Regions from separate parts of the Homo sapiens genome. Here region 2 is linked to region 1. The links come from fine-mapping of genetic effects on gene expression. A gene starts in region 1. The other region holds a variant in brackets. All regions are shown on one strand. Distances are between the middles of the regions.

Region 1 (2,911 bases):
TAGGGACCCCCCCGACCCCCCAACACACACACACACACAGACGGCCACGCTGCTAGGCTTCTCACAGTCTCCCACCCTGAGCAACCCTGGGGATTTGCTGCTAATGCAAGGAACAGTGCCTAACACAGGCTCCCAGTCTCTGCTTGTTTAAAGATGCATGAGATTCAGAATCAATCACTAAAGTAACTGGATTTACGCCACAGCAAATAGAACTGGGAGTATGTTCTGTAAAGATGAAAACCTGTGGGACTTGTGAGACTTTGGATTTTGGCCACTTGCGCTGGTGTGCCCTGTGGCAGCTGAATGAGTGCCAAACATGGGGGGCTGACAGTGGCCTGGCCTTGAGATGGCCGGACCCGGACCAGCAGGTGTGACTCATTTTCCCTGCCCTGCCTGGAAAGGGGTTCGAGGTATTTACCACCTTCCCAGTAGTGATGAATACACAGAAAGTAACATCCCTAGGTCATTCTGAGCTCCTTAAAATGGAAAATAAGAGGCCGGACACGATGGCTCACGCCTGTAATCCCAGCACTTTGGGAGGCCAAGGAGGGTGGATCACTTGAGGTCAGGAGTTCGAGACCAGCCTGGCCAACATGGCAAAACCCCGTGTCTACTAAAAATATAAAAATTAGCCGAGCGTGGTAGTGCACGCCTGTAATCCCAGCTACTCAGGAGGTGGAAGCAGGAGAATCGCTTGAACTCGGGAGGCGGAGGTTGTAGTGAGCTGAGATCATGCCACTGCACTCCAGCCTGGGACAAGAGCGAAACTCCGTCTCAAAAAAAAAAAAAAAAAAAAAAAAAAACAGAAAATGAGAAACTTTCCCCAAACAGTATTACACGGTGACTTGGGCAAAACTGACTCTCCACCAAGAGACACTTGACTGTAGTTTTCCTGGCAGGGAGAGCATCTTTGAGGTCTCTAGTGGCCCAATCTGTTGCCCTCAGATTACCTGGTGTCATGTAGGGTGGAGGACAGCTGTTGTTTGCCATGCGTTCCTGACAGAAATAACCCTTCCAGTCATTCACCATGAGCCTGACTGGTAGAGACTTTAGCAATGGGGAAATACCGTAGACTGTTCCATCAGGACAATGCTGGGCCTGCAGTCCCCAGGGGGCACCCACTTACTTAGCCAAACCCCAGACGTTTCATTTAAAAGCAGAAGTGAAAGGAAGACCAGGTTCCTGAAAGGGTTATTCTGACTTAATCTGGCTATAAAAATGCTATTGGCTGTTATTTGGCATGGCCAAAGTGCACCCAGAATGTCTTCTCTCTCCATTCAGTGCACGCGTTACTTTGGCTAAAAGGAGGTGAGCGGCACTCTGCCCTTCCAGAGCAAGCATGGAGCAACAGGATCAGAGCATGAAGGAAGGGGTGAGTGTGTTGCTCAGGGAAAGGGGCCAAGAGCAGGCTTGGCTGCCAGGGCCTGTGCAGCCTTCCTGGAGAGTCGCTGGGGGGCTCCTGGTGTTGCAGAGGGAACTCTGTGTTGGGAGGGATTATGGTGGGGAGAGGGGGAAAGTCTTGTCCAGCAGGTGGTCTTTTATAGGGAGGAGAGAGGTTTAGAGACAAGTGCTCTGTGGAAATCATTCTACTGGAACAGCCTTTAACAGCAGGATCTGTAACTGAATGGAAGAGACCCAAAGGATTCATTTGTCCCAACTTGAACCAAACATGTTAGCTGCAAAATCCTTCTATGGTTGGTGAGATGTTTCGCTCTGCTTTCGTTTTGCTTTTGGCTTCAGGGCAGTTAATTTTTTCAGCAAGTAACATAGCTGAGCTGCATGAAAGCAAGATAAACTCAGAAAAGGCGTTGCTTGATTTGAATTTAGTTCAGATCTGTCACGTAGGTTTCCTGCCTTTTAGATCCTGAGGCTCCCTTGTTTTAGAGAGGAAAGATTTTCATGGACTCCTGCAACGTAATTGCAGTTTACTTTCTAGATTCCCTTGATTGAGGAAAATGCATAATGTCAGAAAAGTAACACTGACTTATTAACACTTTATAAGAATTTGCATTTATTCATCACAATAGCATCTGCTTATATTTGGAGTGGAGGAAGGATAGTGCACATTTTTGCAAAACAGCATTTGTTCAGGCATGGATGTGAGACCCTCACCATAGGCAGACTGGAAACATGCTCTGTAGCACATAGATTAAGAGTGGGTCTTGGGAGGCTGAGGTGGGTGGATCACCTGAGGTCAGCAGTTCGAGACCAGCCTGGCCAACATGGTGAAACCCCATCTCTACTAAAAATACAAAAATTAGCCAGGCGTGGTGGCAGGTGCCTGTAATCCCAGCTACTCAGGAGGCTGAGGCAGGAGAATCACTTGAACCTGGGAAACAGAGGCTGCAATGAGCTGAGATCACGCCATTGCACTCCAGCCTGGTCAACAAGAGCGAAACTTCATCTCAAAAAAAAAAAAAAAAAAAGAGTGGGCCTGGGAAGTAGAAGCCCCCAGGATTCATTCCTGCTCCATCCTATTCTAGCTGTGGGACTTGGGTAAGTTCTTTAACTCTTCAGTGCCTCAGTTTTCTCATTTGTAAAATGGGAGTAATAACCATACCGCCTCATAGGGTGCTGGAGCAATTAAATGAGATAATGCATGTAAAGTACCTGGCACAGAGTGAGTTCCCCGTAAATGTTACTACTTTTCTTTCTCTCTCTCTCGCTTTTTTTTTTTTTTTTTTTTGACACAGAGTCTTGCTCTGTCACCCAGGCTGAAGTACAGTGGTGCGATCAAGGTTCACTGCAACCTCCACCTTCTGGGCTCAAGCGATCCTCCCACCTCAGCCTCCCAAGTAGCTGGGATTACAGGCATGCACCACCACACCCGGCTAATTTTTGTATTTTTAGTAGAGATGGGGTTTCACCATGTTGGCCAGGCTGGTCTAGAACTCCTGACCTCAGGTGATCC
Region 2 (2,911 bases), 39 kb after region 1:
CTGCCTGGCTTCTCCCTGCTGTCAGCGCCCACTTTGATCTCTGTGGCACTGCCAGGGCTGCATGCTCCAGAGCCAGCAGGAGCTAGGGACAAGCAGGAGCCCCGCCCCTTCTGAGTTCATGGGGGTGGGAGCTCCCCAGGTGCAGCTGCAGCCTCCACCTGCGCCCCCCACCAGATGCAGGCCCTAGGCGTCTCTGCAGTCTGCACCTTCAGGGGCCCGGCAAGGCCTTCCCACCCCTCCCCTCTGTCCCCACAGACTTGGGGATGTCTCCTCCCACTGCCTGGCTTCTCTCCACTCCTGGCACCCACTCCAGTCTCGGAGAGGGGTTGGGGCTGAGCCTGGGCACTGTCACAGCTCAGCTGGGTGTGCATACACCCTGGGAAGTGCTGACATGCCAGCCCCCTGCTGCCTTGGCCCCCTCTGGAATTTGGGCACAGATGAGTGTAAGAGGGGAAGCTTAAGGGGGGCTGAGGGTGGCTCGGTGCTGGCCTACAGGTGCCCCTTACTGCAAGCAACACGGGTGCCACAGACAGCTGTGGGAGGCAGACAGGTTCCTGAGCAGAAGTGGACAGGTCCCTGTAAGACCCCACCTTCAGGCCAGGGAGGGCCTAAAGGCTGGCGGCTGGGCTGCCAGTCCTCCAGACTGGACTGGGGACTTGTGATGCCTTTTCTGGGCCCACCTATGGCCCCCCATGGACCAATAGGCATGTACTTCCTCCCCTTTGAGGTCCATAAAAGCCCCAGACTCAGCCAGAACAGGGCAGAGGATGGAAAGACGACAGGATGACCAGCTGCAGAGAGGAGCTACCCTCTCCAGGGCCTCCTCTCTACTGAGAGCTGAACACTCGATGGGACAATCTGCCTACAGAGAGGAGCTACCTACTGTGGGCCTCCTCTGAGCTGTTCTAACACTCAATAAAGCTCCTCTTCATCTTGTTCACCCTCCACTTGTCTGCATACCTCATTCTTCCTGGATGCGGGACAAGAACTCAGGCAAAGGCTGCCACCGGCCACAGAGGTTTCTGGCCAGAAAATCAACACTTCAAAGATCAGATAACAATGCTAAGTCCCTGTGATGGGATCAAGGTCAGGACACTTGGCAGGTGAGAGATGGAGCTGAAGAGGGTTCAGCTGAAGAAGGTTCAGACCCGTTTGCTCACCACTGTGTCCACCATGCCTGGAACAGTGACTGGCACAGAGTAGGAATTCATTCAGTGCTTTTTGAATGAATGAGTCTTGGTAAAGAGGATTTTAAATGGTTGACAGCAGAGTAAGAAAGAGTGGATCTGGGGAGGAGTTGTCAGCCCCCAGGCGACATGTTCATAAGCCAAATTAGGCAGTTGGAAGGTAGGTTTGACCAGCGTTTTTCACACTTCCAGATGTCACATACCAAAATTTGGTAGACTAACATCGGGCTGCCTCTTTCCATTTTGCAAATAAAAACATTTTTTAAAAACTGGCCAGGTGCAGTGGCTCATGTCTGTAATCCCAGCAGGATTGCTTGAGCCCAGGAATTTGAGACCAGCCTGAGCAGCAAAGTGAGACTGTGTCTCTAATTTGCATATATATATATATA[TAA/A]TTTTTAAAAAATGAACTCCCATCACCAAATTGAGGAAACAATGTTTTAAATAAAGGGCATTTTACTATCTAGACAGGATGTAATCACAGAATAAATTTCAGTCTTTTAAATTGAATAGATTTTTCTTTGTGAAAATCTCACTCCATTGCCCTGTGTCCTGGTATTGCTTAGTGGCTTAACCACCAGGACAGAAACATCAGGAACAAGGGCAGGGCAGTGCATGGTGCACTGGCCATTTCCATTACAGAAGGGCGCTCAGAAAGGAGAGCTGAAGTTCCAATCTGGAATGTTAGTTAGACTGAGTCTTGCCCCCTTCAATCTGCTTTCTCCAGGATTATTTTTTAGTTCCTGCAGGAAGAATGAGAAAGCAGGTAGTTGGCATCCTGACACTCTCATCTGAACATTTCCTTTCCCCTCCTACTACTCTGCAGTGAATTGAGTGCTTTTTTTCTCCCTTTTTCATGTGTTTGCTTTTTTTTTTTTTTAAGACAGGGTCTCACTCCGTCACCCAGGCTAGAGTGCAACGGCACTATCTCAGCAATCTGCAAACTCCACCACTCAGGCTCAAGTGATCCTCCCCCTTCAGCTTCCCTAGTAGCTGGGACTACAGACACATGCCACCATACCCAGCTAATTTTTGTATTTTTTGTAGAGGCAGGGTTTCACCATGTTGCACAGGCTGGTCTTGAGCTCCTGAACTTAAGTGATCCACCAGTCTCGGCCTCCCAAAGTGTTAGGATTACCAGCATGAGCCACCACACCTGGCCCTAACAGTGCTGTTTGAGGGGCTGCTCTTGTCATCCTACATTCTGCACAGCACTGGGACATGCAAGTGATACATACATGGCATCTTCTGTCTTTAGGAATTTACAGTGTAGCCAGGAAGATAAACACCATGCATGCCTTTTCCCTCCTTGCACCCTTGAACTCCAAGTGGGTCACCAGAGCCATCTGTGAAAATTTGGCTAGGGTCCCTGCTCTTACCAGATGTCTTAGTTCATTTTGTGTTGCTATAACAGAATACCACAGAGTAGGCAATTTATAAGCAACAGAAGTGTGTTTGGCTCATGATTCTGGAGGCTGAAGTCCAAGATTGAGGAGCTGCATCTGGTGAGGACCTTCCTGCTGTGTCGTAACATGGCAGATTCCTTTATTTTAGCCCAGTGAGACCCATGTCAGACTTATGACACGTAGACCCCTAAGATGATAAATATGTGTTGTTTTAAGCCACTACGTTTTTGGTAATTTGTTACAAAAGCCATAGAAAACTAATATAGAGATTTTGGTATTGGGAAATGGAGTGCTGCTGTTAATACCTAAATAGCTAAAAGT

What was found.
Region 2: its variant is fine-mapped to the expression of SLC2A5 in whole blood (INTERVAL, PIP 0.94).

What each region holds. Positions count from the first base shown.
Region 1 is chr1:9,067,965-9,070,875 of GRCh38, reverse strand. It overlaps SLC2A5 (solute carrier family 2 member 5), which reads left to right and starts at 1,241. Exons shown (of 12, transcript NM_003039.3): 1 at 1,241-1,372. The coding sequence starts at 1,340.
Region 2 is chr1:9,029,205-9,032,115 of GRCh38, reverse strand. No RefSeq gene overlaps it. Among named protein-coding and RNA genes, the nearest start is that of SLC2A7, 4.2 kb to the right of the region's middle. The variant TAA/A (reference allele first, on the strand shown) is at 1,577.